Linked DNA regions of Homo sapiens. The protein of the gene in region 3 purifies or fractionates together with the protein of the main gene of each other region. This does not show direct contact. Each region holds a gene or a part of one and is shown on either strand. Other genes may lie near its edges.

The links.
Region 1: the proteins of CD33 (region 3) and NUP85 purify together in Homo sapiens (co-immunoprecipitation; one large-scale study listed by IntAct). This does not show direct contact.
Region 2: the proteins of CD33 (region 3) and UBR3 purify together in Homo sapiens (co-immunoprecipitation; one large-scale study listed by IntAct). This does not show direct contact.
Region 4: the proteins of CD33 (region 3) and TBC1D22A purify together in Homo sapiens (co-immunoprecipitation; one large-scale study listed by IntAct). This does not show direct contact.
Region 5: the proteins of CD33 (region 3) and ODR4 purify together in Homo sapiens (co-immunoprecipitation; one large-scale study listed by IntAct). This does not show direct contact.
Region 6: the proteins of CD33 (region 3) and LMX1B purify together in Homo sapiens (co-immunoprecipitation; one large-scale study listed by IntAct). This does not show direct contact.
Region 7: the proteins of CD33 (region 3) and CDCA7 purify together in Homo sapiens (co-immunoprecipitation; one large-scale study listed by IntAct). This does not show direct contact.

What each region holds. Positions count from the first base shown.
Region 1 is NC_000017.11:75,208,679-75,212,178, reverse strand, and holds part of NUP85 (nuclear pore complex protein Nup85), read right to left. Parts: intron 2,357-3,500; coding exon 2,194-2,356; intron 188-2,193; coding exon 117-187; intron 1-116. UniProt on the Homo sapiens protein: Essential component of the nuclear pore complex (NPC) that seems to be required for NPC assembly and maintenance. As part of the NPC Nup107-160 subcomplex plays a role in RNA export and in tethering NUP96/Nup98 and NUP153 to the nucleus.
Region 2 is NC_000002.12:169,952,954-169,956,453, forward strand, and holds part of UBR3 (E3 ubiquitin-protein ligase UBR3), read left to right. Parts: intron 1-3,500. UniProt on the Homo sapiens protein: E3 ubiquitin-protein ligase which is a component of the N-end rule pathway. Does not bind to proteins bearing specific N-terminal residues that are destabilizing according to the N-end rule, leading to their ubiquitination and subsequent degradation.
Region 3 is NC_000019.10:51,228,080-51,231,579, reverse strand, and holds part of CD33 (myeloid cell surface antigen CD33 isoform 1 precursor), read right to left. Parts: intron 1-3,500. UniProt on the Homo sapiens protein: Sialic-acid-binding immunoglobulin-like lectin (Siglec) that plays a role in mediating cell-cell interactions and in maintaining immune cells in a resting state.
Region 4 is NC_000022.11:46,769,150-46,772,649, reverse strand, and holds part of TBC1D22A (TBC1 domain family member 22A), read right to left. Parts: intron 1-3,500. UniProt on the Homo sapiens protein: May act as a GTPase-activating protein for Rab family protein(s).
Region 5 is NC_000001.11:186,385,838-186,389,337, forward strand, and holds part of ODR4 (protein odr-4 homolog), read left to right. Parts: intron 1-150; coding exon 151-246; intron 247-2,604; coding exon 2,605-2,711; intron 2,712-3,500. UniProt on the Homo sapiens protein: May play a role in the trafficking of a subset of G-protein coupled receptors.
Region 6 is NC_000009.12:126,686,928-126,690,427, forward strand, and holds part of LMX1B (LIM homeobox transcription factor 1-beta), read left to right. Parts: intron 1-3,500. UniProt on the Homo sapiens protein: Transcription factor involved in the regulation of podocyte-expressed genes. Essential for the specification of dorsal limb fate at both the zeugopodal and autopodal levels.
Region 7 is NC_000002.12:173,367,185-173,369,497, reverse strand, and holds the end of CDCA7 (cell division cycle-associated protein 7), read right to left. Parts: coding exon 2,212-2,313; intron 1,865-2,211; coding exon 1,834-1,864; 3' UTR 501-1,833; downstream 1-500. UniProt on the Homo sapiens protein: Participates in MYC-mediated cell transformation and apoptosis; induces anchorage-independent growth and clonogenicity in lymphoblastoid cells. Insufficient to induce tumorigenicity when overexpressed but contributes to MYC-mediated tumorigenesis.

The DNA.
Region 1 (3,500 bases), on a different chromosome or scaffold from region 3:
TTTTGGACTGGAATATCAATCAAACTTTACCTCACAGTATTTATGCATAGATAAATACTCAAAATACCCACACACACACACACACACACACGCGCGCACGCGCACACAGTCCTTACTTGCAACCTGGTGCATTTCCTCCATACATGCTCTGATGACTGATCGGTAGTTTTTACTCACTCGAACCAATCTACAAAAAATGAAATAACACACAAGATGAGCCTGGAACATCTTGTAGTGCCACAAAGGAAGGAAACACTCAAATAAATGCAGAAATTTGCTGAAAGAAAGAGGAGAGCCGTTGTGAAGGAGCTCCTAACCTTCTGAAGCTGGAACAACTTGGACAACAAAATAAAACGCCACAAAACAACCCATGGGCTAAAGTTAATATCCACAAACCCATACTGCCATTAATTGTTGCAGATGAAATCTACTGGTCAGACCTTGTCTCAAAAAAATAAAAAAGATACATAAATGTATTTACTGGCCAGGCCCGGTGGCTCAGGCGTGTAATCCCAGCACTTTGGGAGGTGAAAGTGGGCAGATCACCTGAGGTCAGGTGTTTGAGACCAGCCTGGCCAACCTGGTGAAACCCTGTCTCTACTAAAAATACAAAAATCCCAGCTACTCAGGAGGCTGAGGCAGGAGAATCTCTTGAACCCGGCAGGCGGAGGTTGCAGTGAGCCAAGATCATGCCATTGCACTCCAGCCTGGGCGACAGAGTGAGACTCCATCTGAAAAAAAAAAAAAAAGAATAAGACAGGGTCCCCTGCCAGCAAGGAATTACAGGACTTTTGACATGTTTTTTTCCTAGAAGTGACAATAGATTTCTCAAACTCACCAATATTCTCCACTAGAGTCCCTTAAATCCAATAATCAGGCCAGGTGCAGTGGCTCACTCCTATAATCCCAGCACTTTGGGACGCTGAGGTGGGCAGATCACTTGAGGTCAGGAGTTCAAGACCAGCCCAGCCAAAATGATGAAACCCCATCTCTACTAAAAATGCAAAAATTAGCCAGGCGTGGTGGCACGCACCTGTAATCCCAGCTACTCAGGAGGCTGAGGCAGGAGAATGGCTTCAACCCAGGAGGCAGAGGCTGCAGTGGGCCAAGATTGCGCCACTGCACTCCAGCCTGGGTGACAGAGTGAAACTCTGTCTCAAAAAAAAAAAAAAAAACAGGGCCAGGCACAGTGGCTCACGTCTGTAATCCCAGCACTTTGGGAGGCCGAAGCAGGTGGATCACGAGGTCACGAGATCGAGACCATCCTGGCTAACACGGTGAAACCCCGTCTCTACTAAAAATACAAAAAATTAGCCGGATGTGGTGGCAGGCGCCTGTAGTCCCAGCTACTCGGGAGGCTGAGGCAGGAGAATGGCGTGAATCCAGGAGGCAGAGCTTACAGTGAGCGGAGAACGCGTCACTGCACTCCAGCCTGGGTGACAGAGCGAAACTCTGCCTCGAAAAAAAACAGAAAAACAACCAATAATCACTCTTGCACACACTCACACAGAAGCTGACCTGAGTCTTGTCCAGAATGATTCATTTGTGAAAAGCTTATCAAAGAAGTAACATACCAACACTGCCCATTCCCTAGCCATCCATGTGAAGGGACGCTGACAAAAATCTAACACAGGAGTTCTTAAACTTCAGTGTGCTGGAGATTTTAAGATCCAACCACGGAGATTTTGATTTTGATGATCTGAGGTGGGTCCCAAAAGTCTACAATTAACAAGTACCACTCTGATAATGATGAAGTTATGAACTACAATTCAAGAAAATCCTAATCTATAAATAGTACGAGAGTTTTCTGGTCTGTTGTCAAATAACGTCTGAACCATAATTTTTTAGAGACAAAACTGTTAGGTTTATATTAATTTTCAAATCTCCCAACAATGTGACCTCATTCAACGACTCTCACATGCTTGTGTGGCCTAAATTTTCTTCTTTAGAGGCTAAGTAAAATATGAATATAAATAAAGCTTGTCAAGCCAGCCCATCAATAGCATTTGCATATTCCCGCTAAGTCTTCCCATCACTGCTAATGTACACTGTCCAGTACTCATGCCTCAACTAGAACCAGGAGTCTCTTATTTCTTTACGCAACCCATAAAACACACAAAAAGACAACAATGTACTTCATTTGGCTTTCCACAGTGTAGTGTGGGCTTCAACACCAAACAGCAACCAACTTACTGAGATTTTCTGGATTTTCCAGTCAACTCTTCGTCAATTCTCTGGAGGCCCAGAAAGATTCCATGGGATTCATTGAAGAGTTTTCTCAAGATTTGAGAGTAAACATCTACATCCTTACGGATGATATAGATAAAGGGGCAACTTGGCACCATCTCTGATTTTTCTGAAACCAAACAGAAAAAAAAAATTTAACATCTATTATGATCATCTCCAAAAGTGAATCTACTCTAAAAAAATTTTCTGTGGCCGGGCATGGTGGCTCTTGCCTATAATCCCAGCACTTTGGGAGGCCAAGGCAGGCAGATCACGAGGTCAGGAATTCGAGACCAGGCTGGCCAACATAGCAAAACCCTGTCTCTACTAAAAATACAAAAATTAGCTGGGCGTGGTGGCACATGCCTTCATTCCCAGCTACTCAGGAGACTGAGGCAGGAGAATTGCTTCAAACCGGGAGGCGGAGGTGGCAGTGAGCCGAGATCACACCACTGCATTCCAGCCTGGACAGAGCGAGACTCCGTCTCAAAAAAAAAAAAAAAAAAAGAAAGCAAATCAAATGTCAAGATTCCAGTTTTATCCTTCTACTGGAAGGAGACTGTATCACTGTATCAGGAAAAGAAAAAGATTCACATCCTATCCAATAGCTGATGGAACTCAGGAAAATCAAGCCAAGGACAAGCTATGTCACTCTCCAGCTCCATCTGTGCCTTGGATGCTACGGCTCAGCTCAGCCTACAGAACTATTATTCAGCTGAATCCATGCTGTGGACACAAAAGTGACGGCCAAGCATCTGCAAGGTTCACAATAAGGGAGCTACTGATAGGAATTTGGTCACTTTGGACAAAGAAAAAGGGATAAAAAGCTTGACATTTTAAATATGAAGAAAATTTTTCATGAAAACTATTAATTTTTTTCCGGGATTCAACATCTTCAAGATCTCAAAAATCAATGAAAATCTAAAATAGCTAACATTTCAAAAATAAAAATGCCAAAATGCAACAGGATCGCTTGAGGCCAGGAGTGCGAGACCAGCCTAGGCAACAAAATGAGACTCCCATCTCTACAAAGAAAAAAAAATTAGCTGGGCGTGGTGGCATGGTGACCTGTAGTCTCAGCTACTAGGAAGACTGAGGCAGAGGATCACTTGAGCCCAAGAGGTAGAGGCTGCAGTGAGCCATGATCACACTGTACTCCAGCCCAGGTGACACAACAAAACCCTGTTGTATCTTGAAAACAAAATAGAGAAAATTAAAATAGTACAAAATAAATTCAACTGTTTCAGTCCACAACTAGTAAAATCTGAGGTAAT
Region 2 (3,500 bases), on a different chromosome or scaffold from region 3:
TGGTCTCTCTTAGTGGTCAGATCCTTCTTTCTGTTATATAATAGTATATCCTTTTATTTTGAAAGAAGATAAACAGTGAATCAAAATCTGTTTTTCTTGATTAAGGGAATTTTGTAATTATTACTAATAATGTGATACTGGAGGACATAGTTTAGATGCTGCTTTTACAAAGGCCCTGATGCTATTGTAATAAATAATATTCTAAAAATTTTAAAGGCTTTCTTTGTGATAGGTTTTGTTTTCTTTGAACAATGATGGTATTGACAAGGACTTGAAACTAATTTTGTAGCAGACAGCTAAGGATTAAGATGACTCTATTTGGATCTCACCGTGCTTCTCACATTTGTCTTTCCTCTGGTTTCGTTTTGGATTTTCATAATAAAGGCAGAACAGTTCATAAACACTTAATGAGGATCCATTTCCAAGTACTTCACCTTTAGACAAACTCAGCATCACTTTCATAATAGATTAACTTAATAGAAAACAAGATGCAAGCAGAAAACATTAGATGGTTGTAATAAAATGCAGCTTCAATGTCTTTAACCCAGGAGTTAATGGAAAATTTTTGAGTTGTCCTGAATCTGCCAGAACTTGTATATGTTCTTGTTAATGGCCTTTATTTACATTTATGCCCATTTAGAAAAGCAATAATCTCGATTAAGAAAACATTCACAACAATGACATCCCATTTCTGGTTAGTATAGAAACCTGCTATAGAAATGCATTTTAGTATTAGTGTCAAGCAGTTACATTTGAGGTTTTCTTATGTTTAATAGATTTTTAAAAAGTACACTCTATGGACATATGTATTCTAATTGTAAGTGTACATGTTTAAAGGTGAGCTGTAGAGTGAGTGGCATTAATTAAAGAAGTATGGCAAAACTTACAGATTTACGAACTAGTGATTCAGAAGACCAAAAATGTAGTCTGTCAATGCTGTTGTTGCTCATAGCATTTTTGGAGGTCACTTAGAGTGCTTTGAGCATCTAGAGCACATTTTTCTTTGCTTCCATTTCTTCCATTGTGGCAAATATTTGTCCTTTGAGGATGGATTTAATTTTAAAAAGCTTTTTATTTTGAAGTAATCTTAAACTTACATAAATGGTTCAGGAAGTTCTTTGTACCCTCAACTATCAGAATTAGCAGATTGATAGTGGTATTTGAGTATGATTTAGATCCCAAGTTTTGATAGTTGTCCCAATAATGTTTGATTTGTCTTGTCTTGTCTTGTCTTGTCTTGTCTTGTCTTGTCTTGTCTTGTCTTGTCTTGTCTTCTCTTCTTAATTCATTTCTTTTCTTTTCTTTGAGACAGGGTCTTGCTCTGTCACTCAGGCTGGAGTATAGTGGTATGATCACGGCTCACTGCAGCCTTGACCTCCTAGGCTCAAGTGATTCTCCCGCCTCAGCCTCCTGAACAGCTGGGACTACAGGTGTGTGCCACCATGCCTGGCTAATTTTTAAAAATTATTTGTAGAGATGAGGTCTTGCTATGTTGCCCAGGCTGGTCTCAAACTCCTGGGCTCAAGTGATCCCCCCGCCTCAGCCCCACAAAGTGGTGTGATAACAGGCATGAGCCGCTGCTCCTAGCCCCCAATAATATTTCTTTTGTTACTTACCTTTTTTTTTTTTTTTTCGTTTTTGAGACAGAGTCTCTTTCTGTCACCCAGGCTGGAGAGCAGTGGCGCGATCTCAGCTCACTGCAACCTCTGCCTCCTAGGTTCAAACAGTTCTCTGCCTCAGCCTCCCGAGTAGCTGGGATTACAGGTGCTTGCCACCATGCCCGGCTAATTTTTGTATTTTTAGTAGAGACAGGGTTTCACCATGTTGGCCAGGCTGGTCTTGAACTCCTGACCTTGTGATCCACCCGTCTCGGCATCCCAAAGTGCTGGGATTACAGGCGTGAGGCACTGTGCCCAGCCAGTAATATTTCTTATAGCAGAAAGATCCAGTTCATAATCACTCCTTGCATTTAGTTGTCATGCCTCTTTGTTCTCCTTCAATATGGAAGTTTTTGTTTTCATAACCTTGGCACTTTTAAAGATTATGAAGCAGTAGTAACATTGTAGAATATCCCTTAATTTGGGATTGTCTGTTTTCCCTTTATGTTTTGACTCAGTTTATACAACTTTGGCAGGAATGTAAATGAAGTGTTGCTGTTTTCTTTTCATTGTATCCCACAAGCTGTTATATGATTTCAATTTGTTTCATCACTGGTGATTAACTTTGATCATGTCTGCCAGACTTCTTCACAGTCAAATTACCTTTCCCACCCCACTTTACAATTAATACGTAATTTGTGGAGAGATACTATGAGATATTGTAATATCCCAATTCATATCAACTTTATATTCATTTATTTTTATCAGTGTGGACTCATGGGTTCCTATTTTATTTTATGGGTTATAATCTCATATGCTTGTTATTAATTTTGGTGCTCAAATTATTACAGATTTGGCCACTAGGAGTCATGTCAAGCTGGTTTCCGGGTCCTTTTGATCTATTCCCATCATTCTTTGAGCATATTCCTATTTTCTGGGGCAATAAGATGTTCCAGGCTTGGCCAGGTGTCGTGACTCACACCTGTAATCCCAGCACTTTGGGAGGCTGAGGCGGGCAGATCACCTGAGGTCAGGAGTTCGAGATCAGCCTGGCCAATGTGGAGAAACCCTGTCTCTACTAAAAATACAAAAATTAGTTGGGCATGGTGGTGCGTGCCTGTAATCCCGGCTACTCAAGAGGCTGAAGCATGAGAATTGCTTGAACCTGGGAGGCAGAGGTTGCAGTGACCTTAGATCGTGCCACTGCACTCCAGCTTGGGCCATAGAGTGAGACTCCATCTCAAAAAAAAAAAAAAAAAAGATGTTGCAGGCTTATCCTGTACTTGGAGTCAGCCATTTCTCCAAGGAGTCCTGGTTGCTTTTAGGAGAGAATGGTATTTAGAAACCCCAGTCCATGTGTTTATTCTAATGAAGTATAGCTGTCTCAGGCCCTCTTAGGACAGAGCTGGGGAAAATTGTGTGTGTGTTTCTTTGTTTGTCTGTGTTTGTGTTGGAAGGTAGTGTGAGAGAGGAAGGGAGAAATTTATATTTAGTTTTATGTCTGACTTTATGTACTGAAAACTGTGAGTTCACTCTGATACTTTCAATTCCAATCCATCCCTCTAGGAGTCATTCTTGTTTTCTCTCTTTCTCAGTTTCCAGAGTAACTCTGTAACTCTCTACTTCTGCAGTGAGATACCTGACACCTATAACTCTCTCTCTCTCTCTCTCTCTATCTGTGTATCTATCTATCTGGATAGATATATTTAACTTTTTTAGTTAAAAATTACATATATTTAACTAAAATGTTATATATATATATATAACTTTTTTAAAAATCAACTCCCTTATATATAACCACTTTCTTCTAATCTTTTACCATACAAATGCCCTCCCGTGCCAGGTTGTCGAGTCCTGACACTCTGTGCTAGGACATGTTCAGAAAGGGAAGAGAGGGGATGG
Region 3 (3,500 bases):
AATAAGAGGGGAAGTAAGGAACCAGGAATATATAAAACAATCAGAAAACAATCAATGAAATGAAAATAACCTATTAATAATAATGTGTATGTAAATGGATTAAATTGTCCCATTTAAAATATATGGACTGCCTGAATGAATGAAAAGAAAATCTAGACTCAGCTTGTTGGGGTGATCAGATCCAACACTAGGCCGTGGGGGCCACGAAGTCCAGCGGAGTCAAAGGAATGAGACAAGACAAGTTAATAGTACATAAAGTGAGTCCAGGGGGCCGACGCTAGTATGGAGGCTGTGAAGGCCCCGAGCTCTGGGAGCCCACACTATTTATTGGTAATCAAACAAAGAAGCAGGTGGTGAGGACGTGCAGAAGTGGGGATAGACAAGTGAGAACGTGAGGACTTTGGGGTAGAAAGGTAGCGGTGCATCAAGCATAGCTGTGACGGTTTAGCATATGCTCTGCTACTTGAAATAATGGAGAACAAGTTCTTTTCACTCAAGATACAATCAATTTATGATCCTGGGAGAGCAAGGAGCAAGGGGCCAGCAAGTCTGGACACATTCCAGAGGCTATGAGGGGTTTTATGCCCAGAGCCCTGGATTCTTTCCAAGCCACGAGGGGTTTTATGCCCTGGGCTTAGATTGCAGTGTGGCAGGGCAGCCTTCCACCCTTAGGCACAGAGCTTGGTGTTCCATAGGCCACGAGGGGTTTGAGACCCTGGACCCAGGACATGTTCCAAGACTCTTTTACATTATGTCAGACAAGCAAGCCCTGCCTCAGCCCTTCTACCAACACAGCTATATACTGCTTACAAGAAACTTATCTCACCTAGAAGACACACATAGACTGAAAAGGAAGAGATGGAAAAAGATATTCTACCCAAGTGGAAATGAAAGGAAGCAGGAATAGCTATACTTATCTCAGACAAAACGGACTACAAGTCAAAAGCTGTAAAGAGACAAAGAAGGACATTATATTATTATAAAGGGGTCAGTTCAGCACTATAATATAACAACTGTAAATACATATGCACACAACACCAGAGCACCCAGATATGTAAAGCAAATATTATTAGATATAAAGGGAGAGATAGACTCCAATACAATAATAGTTGAGGACTTCAACGCCCCACTCTCAGCATTGAACAAATCATCTAGACAAGATTAACAAATAAACGTTGGATTTAAACTGCACCATATACCAAATGAACCTAAGATATTTACAGAACATTTCAACCGACAGCTGCAGAATACACATGGTTTCATCAGCATGTGCAACATTCCCAAGGATCGACCATATGTTAGAACACAAAACAAGTGCCAAAAATTTTTAAAAACCAAAATGTATCAAGTATCTTATTTGACTACAATTGAATAAAACTAAAAATCAATACCAAGGGAAACATGCAAACTATACAAATACACAGAAATGAAACAAAATGATTCTAAATGACCAATAGTGAAGGAAGAAATTAAGAATGATATTTAAAAATTTCTCAAAATAAATAAAAATAGAAATAAAATATACCAAAACCTATGGGACACAGCAAAAACAGTTTTAAGAGACAACTTGAGAGAAATAAATGCCTACATCAAACAATTAGACAAATTTCAAGTAAACCATTTAACTGTGCATTTCAAGAAACTAGAAAGCAAGAACAAACCAAATCCAAAATCAGCACAATGAAAGAAATCATAAAGATCAGAGCAGAAATAAATGAAATTAAAAAAAAATCAATGAACAAGTTCGCTTTTTGGAAAAATAAATAAAATTGACAATCATTAGCTAAACTAAGAAAGAGACAGAAGACATAAAAATTAATAAAATCATAAATAAAAAAGAAGATGTCACAATGGTTACCACAGAAATACACAGGATCTTAGACACTACTATGAACAATATGCCAACAAATTTGAAAGTCTAGAAGAAATGGATAAGTTCCTGGACACATATAATCTACCGAGATTGAATCAAGAAGGTATAGAAAACTTCAGCAGACAAACAACAAGTAATGAGATTGAATGAATAATAAAAGGCCCCCCAACAAAGAAAATTCCAGGGCTGGATGGCTTCAGTGCTGAACTTTACTGAACCTTTAAAGAAAAAAAAATTATGCCAACTCTTCTCAAACTATTCCAAAAAATTGAAGTGGAGGCAACTCTTCCTAACTCATTCTACAAGGCCAGCATAACCATGACACCAAAATCAGAAAGGAGACAATAAAAAAAGAAAACTAGAGGCCAATATCCCTGATGAACATAGATGCAAAAATATTCAACAAAATAGTAGCAAATCAAATCCAACAATACATCAAAAAGATAACATACCATGATAAAGTGGGATTAATCCCAGAAAGGCAAGAATGATTCAACATATGCAAATCAATAAATGTTATACATATGTCAACAGAATGAAGGACATAAACCGTATGATCACCTAAATAGTTGCAGAATAAAAAGCATGTGTTAAAATTCAATATTGTTTCATGATAGAAACTCTCAATAAATTAGGTATAGAAGGAAAGTACCTCAACACAAAAAAGGCCATATATGACAAACCCATGGCTAACATCATACTGAATGGAGAAAAGCTGAAATCTTTTCCTCTAGGAACTGGATGTCCACTGTTATGACTCTTATTTTACATAGTACTGAAAGTCCTAGCCAGAGCAATTAGGCAAGAGAAAGAAATAAAAACCATCCAAACTGGAAAGGCGGAAGTCAAATTGTCTCTGCAAATAACATACAAAAACCTAAAGACTTGGCCAGGCGTGGTGGCTCATGCCTGTAATTCCAGCACTTTAGGAGGCCAAAGTGGGCAGATTGCTTGAGGCCAGGAGATCAAGACCAGCTTGGCCAACATGGTGAAATTCCATCTCAAAAACAAAACAAAACAAAACAAAACAAAACAAAAACCTAAAGACTCTAACAATAAAACTCTCAGAACTGATAAATGAATTTAGTAAATTTGCAGGATGCAAAATCAATATACAAAAATCAGTAGCATTTCTACACACAATGAATTAGCTGAAAATAAATCAGGAAGGCAATCACATTTACAATAGCTATAAGAGAATGAAGTATACCTAGGAATAAATTTAACCAAGGAGGTGACAAGCCTTAATAAGAAAAACTACAAAACACTGAGGAAATAAACTGAAGAGGATACAAACAAATGGAAAGACATTCCTTACTCATCAGATGAATTAATATTGCTAAAATGATTATACTACCCAAAGAAATCTACAGATTCAAACCTGGCTCTATCAAAATATCAATGTAATTCTTCACAGAATTAGAGGAAACAATCTTAAAATTCATATGGAACTAAAAATAGCCTGAATGGTCAAAGCAATCCCAAGCAAAAAAGAACAAAGCTGGAGGTATCACACTACAAGATTTCAAAATTTCAAAACTAGAAAATTTCAAAATTTCAAAAATTTAAAGATTTCAAAACTACAAAGCTGTAGTAACCAAAACAGCATGATATTGGCATAAAAGCA
Region 4 (3,500 bases), on a different chromosome or scaffold from region 3:
AAAAAGTGCGGTGCATGTGTGTTTGTGTATATATGTATATATGTATATGTGTGTATACATATATATGTATATGTGTGTATACATATATATGTATATGTGTGTATACATATATATGTATATGTGTGTATACATATATATGTATATGTGTGTATACATATATATGTATATGTGTGTATACTATATATGTATATGTGTGTATACATATATATGTATATGTGTGTATACATATATATGTATATGTGTGTATACATATATATGTATATGTGTGTATACATATATATGTATATGTGTGTATACATATATATGTATATGTGTGTATACATATATATGTATATGTGTGTATACATATATATGTATATGTGTGTATACATATATATGTATATGTGTGTATACATATATATGTATATGTGTGTATACATATATATGTATATGTGTGTATACATATATATGTATATGTGTGTATACATATATATGTATATGTGTGTATACATATATATGTATATGTGTGTATACATATATATGTATATGTGTGTATACATATATATGTATATGTGTGTATACATATATATGTATATGTGTGTATACATATATATGTATATGTATATATACGATGGAATACTACTTAGCCATAAAAAGGAATGAATTACTGGCATTCGCAGAGACCTCGATGAGATTGGAGACAACAATTCTGGGTAAAGTAACTCAGGAATGGAAAACCAAACATCACCTGTTCTCACTCATAAGTGGGAGCTAACGGCTAGGCATGGTGGTTCACGCCTGTAATCTCAGCACTCTGGGAGGCCGAGGCGGGTGGATCACTTGAGGTCAGGAGTTCAAGACCAGCCTGGCCAACATGGTGAAACCCCATCTCTACTAAAAATACAAAAATTAGGCGGGCATGGTGGCATGTGCCTATAATCCCAGCCACTCGGGAGGCTGAGACAGGAGAATCACCTGAACCCGGGAGGCAGAGGTTGCAATGAGCTGAGATCGCGCCACTCCACTCCAGCCTGGGCAACAGAGCAAGACTCCATCTCAAAAAAAAAAAAAATAGTAAGTAGGACCTAAGCCATGAGGATGCAAAGTCATAAGAATGACACAATAGACTTCAGGGACTCAGAGGAAAAGGATGGGAAGCGGGTGAGGGATAAAAGACTGGGTTCAGTGTATACTGCTCGGGTGCACTGTTCAGTATACACTGTTCAGTGTATACTGCTCAGGTGCACCCAAATCTCACAAATCACCACTAAAGAACTTACTCATGTAACCAAACACCACCTGTTCCCCAGTAATCTATAGAAATAAAAAATTAAAAAGAAAAACAGAAAGAAAAACAGACAAGTGGTCTCCGAAGACTTGTTCTCCTCAATTCCATGAGGAATCCCATGGTTCCTCAAAAACACTTGGAGGCGATGGGGTACTTCCTCCTGCTCTTGTTACTTAAGAAACAAATAAATAAATAATCCAAAATTGTCAGGGATCAATCATTTTTGTCTTCATTTAAAATTAACCCAGAGTCCAGATTTACTCTATCAGACGAATATGTAAGAGAAAGGAAATATGATTCACATTCAATTTATTTTTCAAAGTGTTTCTGGACAAAGTAAGACATTTAATAACATGGAAAGTAACCGCTGAAAGGAACAAGAAAAGGAACTGCACCTACAGCAAAATCTCACCCACCAGCTCTTCCGCGGCCCCCGTCACAGGAAGGTCATCTCCACTCACAAACAAGAAGAGAAACCCAACTGGCGGGGAACACACAATCACTGCCGGAACAAGACTCCGGGGCTTCCCTCTGCATGGAAAACAGGACTGAGGGTTCTTACCCAATAAACAATCTCTTCAAAACATAAGCAAAAGGCAATACAGATTTATAAAAAACACAAGAAAGCAAGGCGGCCAGAAGCAGCAGCCAACATTCTGAGGAAAGAGGCAGGGCTCTATTTGGTTCCTAGGCCTGAGCAGGACATAGGACATAGGAAGAACCCTCCGAGCTGACTTCAGTCCCCTGGGTTTAAACACACTTTGTGGAGGTTACCCAGTGACCACCCCCAAGGCCGCTGACCAAGGTACTCCTGCCCACATCCAAGTGCAGGACTCTGCTGAGGGAGGTGCTGGGCCACCTGCCATTCCCTGTCAGACATCCCTCGGCACAGTCCCCAACTCTTCACAGCTGCTGTAACAAATTACCACAGCTTAAAACATGCATTCACTATCTCGAAGTTCTGAAGGTCAGAAATCCGGCATGGGTCTCATCACACTGAAGTCCAGGCGTCAGCCAGCTGTGCCCCTTCCGGGAGGCTCGAAGGGAGAACCCCTTTCCTGCTCACTCCGGTTGGCGGCAGAATTCAGCTCCTGGCGGATGCAGGAGCAAGGCCTTGCTCTCCTGTTAGCCATCTGCAGAAGGCCTTTCGCAGCTTCTAGAAGCCGCGCCACATTCCTGGTGGCTGCCTCCTCCATCTGCAAAGCCAGCCGCTGTGGGTGGAGTCCATCCCACACCATGTCTCTGACCACGTCCAAAAGCTCGTGAGGTTACACTGGGCCCACCAGGTAACAGGACAATTCCCCCATTTCAGGTCAGCTGATTAGCGACCTTAATTCCCCTCTGCCATGTAACAGAACATATTCACAGGGGTCAGGGATGAGGATGAGGACACCTTTAGGGGGCCAGTATTCTGCCTACCACACTCCCATCCCCTCAGGCCAGCACCCTGGAGATCACCTCGACCCCCAGCACCCCGCCCATCAGTGAATCCTGAGTGTGCCATGTGTACCCTGAACATGCCCGATCCTCTCCAACCCCACAGCATCTGGCCTCGGCCTCCTCAGAAGCCCACCAGTTTCCTCTCTCGCCCTCTCTTCAAGGATGACAAACAGTGTCACAGTATCACACCCCTCCCTGTTTAAAACCCTTCAACACTCTCTCATGGCTCTTAGGACCACAGCTCAGATCTTCACCATGGCCTTGGAAGCAGCTCCAGTGCCTGCTCACCACCCTCCATGCCCCTCCTCCCCAGTCAAGCGCTCCCCACTCCTATACACCCTCCCCTGACCTCAGCAGCCAGATCGGTTCCTGCTGTACAGCCAGGTCTCGGCGGAAGCGGGACCTGTGTAAGGAGGACATGAGCATTCCACCCAGTGAGGGCCTTGCTACTCTGCCAGGGTCCCGGGACTGCCACCTGCCCAGCACTGCAGTCTGTGCGCATGTGTTCACAGGGCAGGCGTCCAGCCGTGAAGAGCCACATGGCTTGCTCAGCACGCACCACAGCACCTGGCACAGGAGAGGAGCTCGTAAACGTTTTCCAAATGAATTCATTATCCCCAACAGTGCCTCTCCTTCGGCTGAGGACGGACTGTGGCCTATTCAGCCGACCGTCTGATTTGCTCACAGACATCTCGTGGCTCTGGCAATGTAAGCTGAAGGCTGTCAGAGCCACATCACTAAGAACCCTCTTGTGCTCCAGCTTTATCCCAGCACTCACATCCTTGCCATGCTC
Region 5 (3,500 bases), on a different chromosome or scaffold from region 3:
TGTAGCTAAAGGATGTTGTTATCAGATAGTTTTATTTATAAAGTAGTTTTAAGGTGAAAAGCTAAGGACATGCTAAGCAGACAGTTTCTCAAACAGAAAGGATTGCATATAATGCCAATTTGTTAGCTAATAATATATTTCTATTTTTAGGTATCCAGAATGCTACCAGGGGGACTTTTAGTTCTTGGAGTATTTATTATTACTACTTTAGAACTGGCAAATGATTTTCAAAATGCCCTGCGTAGAGTAAGTTTGATATATCGAAAATTCTTAATGAAATCAGTTATATGTTATTTTTACTGATTATGAGTATGTGTAATGATTCTAGGCATATTTACATTTGTTTTCCATAATTCTTTTTGTTGGGGTTACATTGAAAAAGCTTTTGTCACTCAATTGCTTGGATATCTTGAGTGTAAAAAATGTTTATATTTTTAAAAACTACACATTTTATTTATTATTTTTTCCATGGGTAATTTTATTCTTTATTTAGTACACTACCCAAAACAGGGCTATCATCAGCCCATATGGCATTTCATACAAATTTGAAAAAGCTATTCTTTCCTCAAGTTAAAAAGTTAAATTATTTACTTCTCAATAATAACCATGACTAATGACAGTAATTCCATGTAAATTATGCAAACAAATAATTCATTGTAAAATATTGAAAAATTCAAATGATTAATTATAATATTAAGAACTCAAAGTCACTTGGATCTAATAATTTGTTGTAAAAAAGGCATCTTTGTGGAAGTAATTCTTTTTGACAGAAAAACTACATATTTTAAAATAATCTTTATTTTAGAGGTAATTTCTGACTATTAGGAAACAAATTATAATGCTTTAAACAGTTTTTCTTATGCAATAGCAGTATTCTGTCACACCTTCCATTTAGTACCTAGTGATTACTGTAACATGAAATTAATAGGTGCTGAAATTCTTTACCTTCTTCTCAATTCTCCGGAGATCCTGAGAGTAAAACATAAACAATCAGATTATTCCTGGACACAGTATCTATCAGAAATCTCCTGTGTTTTTTGCTTAATTGCTGCACCAGAGAATTGGGTAACATAGTGTAAAAGTAAATATGAAGGTCCACATGCTGTTTTCCCTTAAACCCAAACCTAAGGTAGATTCTGTGTAGCCAGCTCTTTTAGCATTCAGGATCCACATGAACTTTTTGAAGGGTATTTCATACCCCAAAAGAGGGGGAACCTTAAAATCTTGAGACATATAAAACCCAACCCCAACAGTATCCCAGAAAAACATTTTTTAGGTAAAAAATATACAGCTGAGAACTTCAGATGTTACAGATTTTTTCAGTCTTGTAACCTGTCCTGTCAGATGTCCCAGCCTCAAGCCTTTGATATTTGCACCTAAGGGAGTAAGGGAAGAAAATGGAGATATTCTCCTCCCTGCTAAATTGTTTAACCCTCTGCCAACTTTTCCATCTTAAATAAATTTACCTTGTTTACAATTGTTCATTCTCTTTGGCATTTTGAAATTTAACCGAAATCTATGCGTATTTAATATTAATAGCATTCATTGTGCAACCTTTTTTGGCTGGTGCTGAATTGAGGGGGTTGAATGTGGGCCCAGTGCTAGAGAGATACAGCCAGGCCCACTTTCCTTGCTTTTGTATCTTTTGTTCCTAAAAAGTATATAAAACTTTAGAAATGCTTTATCTCTGACATTACTGAGTTTCAATTATCTAATTGTTTCCACTGGCTACACTGACAAACACTACAAGAAACAGCCTTATAAAACTTGTCAGTGTCACCCATTATTGTTAAGGACTTTATTCATCATATTACATTAATATTGTGTTTCCGGAAGAATTTCTTTTTATATTATGAAGAAGGTTGTGCCTCCTCTGATGATTGTTTTTAGCTTACAGACCATGTGAATTAGGTTACAGATTAGATTTCTCTCTGCACATTATTGTTAGAAAGCTTAGACCGAAATGTATTACCACCCCTTACATCAAGTATGCATTTTTATAATTCTTATTTCTGACACAAATTTATCTCACTATTCTACTTTAACTTTCAATTTGTTATTACTATATTTTATATGTTGTTATATATTGCCTTAAGTCTTGTGTGACGTTTAAATAAGAAATGCTAAATGGGTGACATGCTTGATTTCTTTAGTTAAAATCACTTATCATTTCTCATTCTAATTAAAGTCTCTGTTCTATAGTTTATATAAATTCTAGTTGCCCCAAATTAATTTTTTGTGTCCAGTTAATCTCTAATGATAGTGAATTAAATTTTTTTATTTAAACCCAATTTTTCTGTAATTTCCTAAAAGGAATTCAAAAATGTTAGTAATTAGCTCCAGTCTTTAATTTGAAGAAAAGAAAAATTAATGGTGGCACACACCTGTAGTCCCAGTTACTTGGGAAGCTGAGGTGAGAGAATCACTTGAGCCCAGGTGTTCAAGGCCAGCTTGAGCAACATAGTGAGACCCCTTCTCCAATAAATAAAGAATCATGGAATTTTAAAGCTAAATGAGAGTTGGGGACATTATAATTGCCTATTTCAACACTCATCTTTTTTTTTCATTTTACATTCAATTAGTGTGTATTTTTCTCTCTTTCAGCTAATGTTTGCTGTGGAAAAGTCTATAAATAGAAAGAGATTGTGGAATTTCACAGAGGAGGAAGTCTCAGAACGAGTGACACTTCACATTTGTGCTTCTACAAAAAAGTATCTTTTGTTCAGTTTATGGTTTAAAAGTACAAAGTACCAAAATAATATTCTTGCAAGGTTTTTTTGCTATTTATTTAAATCATCATTTAAAAAATAGGCATAGTTTTGTAAGATTTTTCTGTAAATAACATGGAATTAGAGCCACCAATAATAATAATAGCAATAATGGTTGTTAATCATGTCCCAAGGTGATAAAAAGCTTGAGATCTGTAATATGAAAGACTCAGGATTCTGAATTTTTTACCAGCTATCTGCCCTGTACATCCAAGCACAGCAGATTCCCTACAGAGATAAATGCCTAACTGATGGCTTAGGCAAAGTAATGTTTTTATTATGTTAAAGTTTTCACCTCCAGTTTCTATAGATAAGGATGTACAATTCAAAGCACAGGTGCACAGAGCTGGATGGTATAGGACATCGGAGAAATTCTTATGTCTTTGGCTAAGATGAAATGACACTAAAAGCCAGTTACACGGCCTCTTACCAGGGCAAGAGTACCTCCCAAGCAAGGGTCATCCTCACCAAAGGAGTGACACGATCCATGGACTTCCAAAGACAGAATTTTAAAAGTGACCATTCCTGCAGAAGCAGGGCTTTTTTTTTTTTTAACAACAACAAAAAAAATCTTTAGTATTTAACTGCAAAGTTTCATATACAAGCCCTTTAATCCAATAAATAGTCTCAGGTTTGACCTCATATAAAACAGTGGTACTTTTTCTTATGGAGAGTGTATATTTGAGAAGAATCTCACGAGTGCTTTGATTCTATTTATTGCAATTAGCGGGA
Region 6 (3,500 bases), on a different chromosome or scaffold from region 3:
GAGTGCTCTGTCCAGATCAGGCCAAACAAGCTAGAAGGGCTGGCCGGAACCCGGGGTGGTGGTGAGAAGGAGGCACAGTGGGGCCCTGTAAACCCAGTCAGCGTCAGGGAGGCTGCCCCCAGGAATCATGGAGACTCTAGCAAGGGTGAGCAACAAAGGCGTTTTGGGCACACACCGAACAAAAGAAATGTGGGGTACCTGGAGTACCTTCTTCATGCCAGCATGGTGCCGAGGGCTTTAAATGCATCCAGCCCCTGCCAACAACCCCATGGTCGGGGATGATCATTCCCTTTTTTTTTTTATTTTTTATATATTTTTTGAGACGGAGTCTCTCTCTGTCGCCCAGGCTGGAGTGCAGTGGTGCGGTCTTGGCTCACCACAATCTCCACCTCCCAGGTTCAAGTGATTCTCTTGCCTCAACCTCCGGAGTAGCTAGGATTACAGGTGTGTGCCACCATACCCGGCTAATTTTTTGTATTTTTAGTAGAGACGGGGTTTCACCATGTTGGCCAGGCTGGTTTTGAACTCCTAACCTTAAGTGATCCGCCCGCCTCAGCCTCCCAAAGTGCTGGGATCACAGGCGTGAGCCACCGCGCTGGCCTGATCATTCCCATTTTATAGATGAAGAATTTGAGGTTCAGAGAGGTCAAATGCCTTGCCTAAAGCTGCACAGCAAGGAAGTTATGGAGGTTGTGCCCGCCACACCTGCTGCTTTACACTGACAACTCGCTACATCTTCATGCTGAGATGCAGGCAGTGTTGTCCAGCCCATTGTATAGATAAGTGAGCTGAGGCTCGAGAAGAAAAATTACTTGCCCGGTCACCAGCTAGCAAGTGGTGGGACAAGGCATGGAACTCAAGTCCATGTGATTCCAATGCCACCTGTCTGTGGCTGGGCCTTCTTCTCAGTGGCTGGCTCCATAGTCCTCCGTGGTGGGAGGCACGAAGAGAGGGGGAATGGGGGCTCACAGAGAAGAGGGAACCCCGCTGGTATCCCCAACCCCTCCCATACACGCCATTAGTCGCTCTCACCCCAGCACAGTAGACAAAGGCAGCCCCATAATTGGGAGTGAGTATTTCATGCATCCCCCCCGATGTTTTATTGGGTGGAGAGATGCTTGGAGACCAAACGGATGGCGCATTCTGTTTATAAAGTGCGCGCAGTTTGTTTTATTTCCTGAGTTTTTGCAATCTAGATAACAGATGATACCCTGAGTGGCTGGCGCTGCCTCTGTAATGGCGGCACTGAGCCTTTGGAGAAGTATTAATAATAGATTGTGTTGATGAGTTTGGAGAAAGTAGCAATCGACCCCCTGCTGCCAAGGCATTAGCGCGGCTGTTCTGAGCACAGCCAGCACTGTGGCTTTGACTGCAAATGCAGGTCACCCGCCCTGCTGCCCCTTCCCCAGCCTAAGAAGGTTTCCTCTCCGGGAGTCACCCAAGGTGTGCTGACCCTGGCCTGGGACCCTGGGACCGTGGCGCTCCCACGCTAGCAGCGACACGGCCAGTGTCTGTCCACTCAGAGGCCGCAGAGGTCAGGCTGCAGACCTTAGTGTGGCCACTAGGTCAGGTGGAGTGTGGGGAGGGGACAGAGGGGCAGTAGGGGTTGGGGGAGGACCACCCTCCATGTCAGAGCACCGGGTTCTACAAACCCAGGCTCCTTCCTCAGCCCCTCGGGAGAGCTGGACAGCCAGCCAGATTCCTAGGGCCTCTGCCTAAAGCTGTCACTGACAGTTGGGTAGGTTGTGCCCTGAACAAGGGGATTCAGCCAGAGGGCCAAATTAGAGCCAAAATCCAGCCCACATTCCCCTTGCAGAGCCATGCCCTGCAGGCTGGTGGGGTCCAGCATGCCCAGAGCAGAGCCTGGCCTCAGCCTCAGCTCACCCCAGGCCTTTACTCACCTACTCTGTAAACACTCACGGAGGCCCCCTTGAGGATCAGATGGGGCCAGGTCCTGTCTCATGGAACCCTGGTAGAGGTGGTAGAGTTGGGCACCAACAGGGACATGCATTGTCATTCTGCTGTGATACCCGTGTACTGAGTTACATGCTCAGCATCCTCGAATCCTGACAACAGCCTTCAGGAAGGGCTTGACATCTCCATTTTACAGGAGTAAACTGAGGTGGGGGACGCTGAGGGGAGCATAGAGGAGGCTACCTCCCCCAGACTGGGGCATCAGAGAAGGCTTCCCAGAGGAGGTGGCATTGGAGTTGGGCATTGCAGGATGAGTAGGAGCCTGCTGGGTAGAATAGAGGTGGGTGGCAGGGGTTGCTGGGGGTGCCCCCTGCTGAGTGCTCTGGCCAGTGCCCAGGCAGCATGCAGAGCTCCAAGTGGCCCTGCCCACTTCGCCCCACCAGCTCGCCGTGGGCGGTTCTGACGGCAGCTCCAGGAAGGGAGGCAGGCGAGTGCCTCCCATTTATGGCCATTTCTGTTCCAGAACCGATTAGTAGAGAATTGCAGCTGTAATCTGTGCCCGTGATGGTGGGCCATAAAGAGGGATGGGATGTGCACAGCGCTCCCAAGGTGGCGCCCGCAGACATGGCCCGGGGACGCCGGGAATGAAAAATGGTTTTAATTCCCTCCCAGCAGCAATAATTTGATTCTTCATAAATTTTTCCATCAAAGTGTTGTTGAGCTGAGTTCCCACAGAGCAGGACACGTGACAGGGTGGGGGAGTGTCGGGAGGAGCGGTCAGCAGACACAGCAGAGGAGGGGCCGTGCTGCCCAGCCCTCCTGCTAGTGCTGACCAGGGCCCGGAGACCACCTCTCCCGGCCCTCGTTTGTCTGCAGAGATGATGGGAGATGGGAGATGGAATCACGTTGTCATGTGGAAGCTGGATTAGGCCCAGCCTGGGAGTTGCCTCCAGCATTTACTACCCATGCGACCCTGAGCAAGCAACTCTGCCTCTTAGCACCTCAATTTCCTCATCTCTAAAATGGGGTTAATGTTCATTCTTTTCTTGCAGGGTTGTTGCAAGGATTAAATGCGTCTCTGCATATAAGATGCTTAGAGCAGGGCTGGCACTCTATACGTGCTCAGTGAATATCTGTTCGTGATGGAGATGCGTAAGCTGAGACGGAGGGATGGGAAGGTGTTAGCCAAGCCAAAGGACAGAGAAAGATGGGTCGAAAGATGGCTGCCATGATAGTGCTCTGGAGAAACTGCAGGCTGTTCTTTGGGGCTGCAGCCTGGGGAAGCAGAGGGTAGAAAGGGAAGAGGCGGGATCATGAAGGGCCTTGAGTGCCAGCCTCAGGAGCTCGGATGGTCTCCTAAGGGCACTAGGGAGCCATGGAAGAGTCTGGAGCAGGGAAGCAGCTTGATCCGATTTGTATTTTAGAAAGATCCCCCTGGCTCCTGTGTGTGTGACGGTTCCTGTGTGGGCTGGGGTTTGAAGGATTGAAGGGGCCAGGAGCCCAGAGAGGGGACCAGGCAGTTGCTCGGGCAGGAGAGGAGGGGCCCAGGCTGGGCAGTGGGTTGGGCAGGGCTGGGAATTGCTTGG
Region 7 (2,313 bases), on a different chromosome or scaffold from region 3:
TAAACTCTGCAGCAGCATGTAGCCCACAGGCTGTAGTTTGCCAATCCCTGGTCTAAAGAATTGGACAGCCGGTGTGGTGGTGGCTCTTGCCTGTGACTTTGGGAGGCCAAGGCAGGAGGATCCCTTGAGCCCAGGAGTTTGAAACCAGCCTGAGCAACATAGCAAGACCTGTCTCTACAAAAAATAAAAAAAGAATTGGGCTATGAGAGCTTTTAGACCATGCCTTTTTTGTTGATTCTCACAGTCCTGGAACAAGCCTCAAGGCACAGCATGCATTTAATATATGTTTGAATGGTTGATAAAAGTAAGCCAGGTATTGCAAAGCACATCATAAAGGAAAAGAAAACACTACAAAACTTCATGGGCACATATTGTTTTCTATCAGGCACTGTGGTTGTCTCCGCCCGTTTTCTGATCACAGGTATTAGTCCTGTCACCTAGTGAGGTCCTTTCAAACAAGCTGACCTTAGAACTTCAGAAACTTCAGTCAAAAGGGAGACTTTTTTAGAAAAGGTGGAAATGGCCTTTTATTTAAATATGAGGAAAAAATTAGAATTAAGTACAGTAAGATTATTTTTAAAAAAGCAGACAAGTTAGAACAAACATTTTATTATTAAAATAAACTTTTGTATAAAAGCATTACAGATCAAAAGCTGTATTTACACTTATCGATTCAAGGTCCAATTATGCATCAAACATTGAATGGCACAGCAATGGTTTACATATGCAAGTAAATTGGACATACAAACACTTAGATTCCACCTCTACCAAATACCTTGATTAATGCAAAGAGGAGGGGGAATACTGACACAGGAAACCTGCCCAGAAACTAGACTGGCAGAGATGTCAGGTTAACAAACTGCTAAAAGTTACATCTCCAAAAAGGCACTTATCATTGTTATAAAAGTGCTTAAAATCTAAACTTGAACCTTGTGCCTGGTTTATAAATTTACAAGAAACTGCAAAGAACCACAGACTAGTTTTTAATATCAAGTTTCCATACAAAATTGTCCAAGAATTTATTTGCAATACCTTACATGTGAACTGAAATAAACTTTGCAAACTACAATTATACTAAAGTTTTATACTGAAAATTCAAATCAGCTTACTCATAATCTCCAGATAGCTCTTCCATCATTATTTTAATTAAGTATTACATTGCCCACCAACCTTTGAATTATGATTGTGTAAGCTGGACGCACCACTTACCCTTCGGGCAGAAGAAATTAGGAGAAATTAAGTCTCAACTGTGACAACAACTTGTAACATAAGCGCAATACATGGGATTGAGAGACATCAATCTGCAATAATTACCTAATTTTTCCACATGGTTTTAAGACTTTTGTGCCTTGATTCTATTAAAAATTTCAACTAGTATGAATGCTAAATCATACTCGTTTTTGTGTAAACAAGTTAGAAGGCTCTTCTCTGAAATTCAATAGATCTAGTTAGTTAATACTATTATTGTGTTTCCAAGTGCTTAGGTTTTATGAGGGCTATTTCAACACCAAGTAAATAAAATATGCTTTCATAAAACTGTAATTTAAAAGAAATTCAGAAACTAAGCGGTTGGAGAGGAGCATTGGAAATAGAGGGGGATGCTGTGAGATGGGGGTTGGGAGCAGAGAAGAAACTGCAGGAGGGCAAAGTGTAACTAGCAATATACCTTCTGTGATGCTCCAGAAACACATGTCTGCTAAGATTAACTTGATTGGAGTTTCTTATGAAACAGGCTGATCATCAAGATTTTTAACTCAGGTTTCAGTGAAAAAATTGGAAACTTTTACAAGAAAGATTTGAGAAGTAGAAGGCAGGCAGCAAATTTTCCAGATATTATGCTTGCATTTCAAATTCCTGTTTCAGGCTGTGAAAAACAAAAGGAAATGTGTCAGGACATAGTTTTCAACCAAAGAATTCTCTTTTGAAAGCCTAATTCATTTTTAAAACCATTTTTATTGAGTTATAACATCACTATGGTCAAGTGTGCGCATCTTCAAGTATATTACCTGACTTTTTCATACACACCCACCCACCCGGGTTACCACCACCTAAGTGAAGACAGAAAATGTTCCCATCCCTTCCAGTGTGCCCCGTTCCAGTCAGTCTCCACCCCGCCAGAGATAACCACTCTTCTGACATCTATCATCTTCTCATTAAGACATAAATGAATATAAAATTCAGATGTGGAAGGGAAAAAAAAACACCCACTACCTTTTCAAGTAGGCATGCACATTCCCAAAGCCATGATATTTGGCTAAATACACAAGGACCCCAGTCGCACACCGTCCATCTCGCTGCCGGCAGAAACTGCAG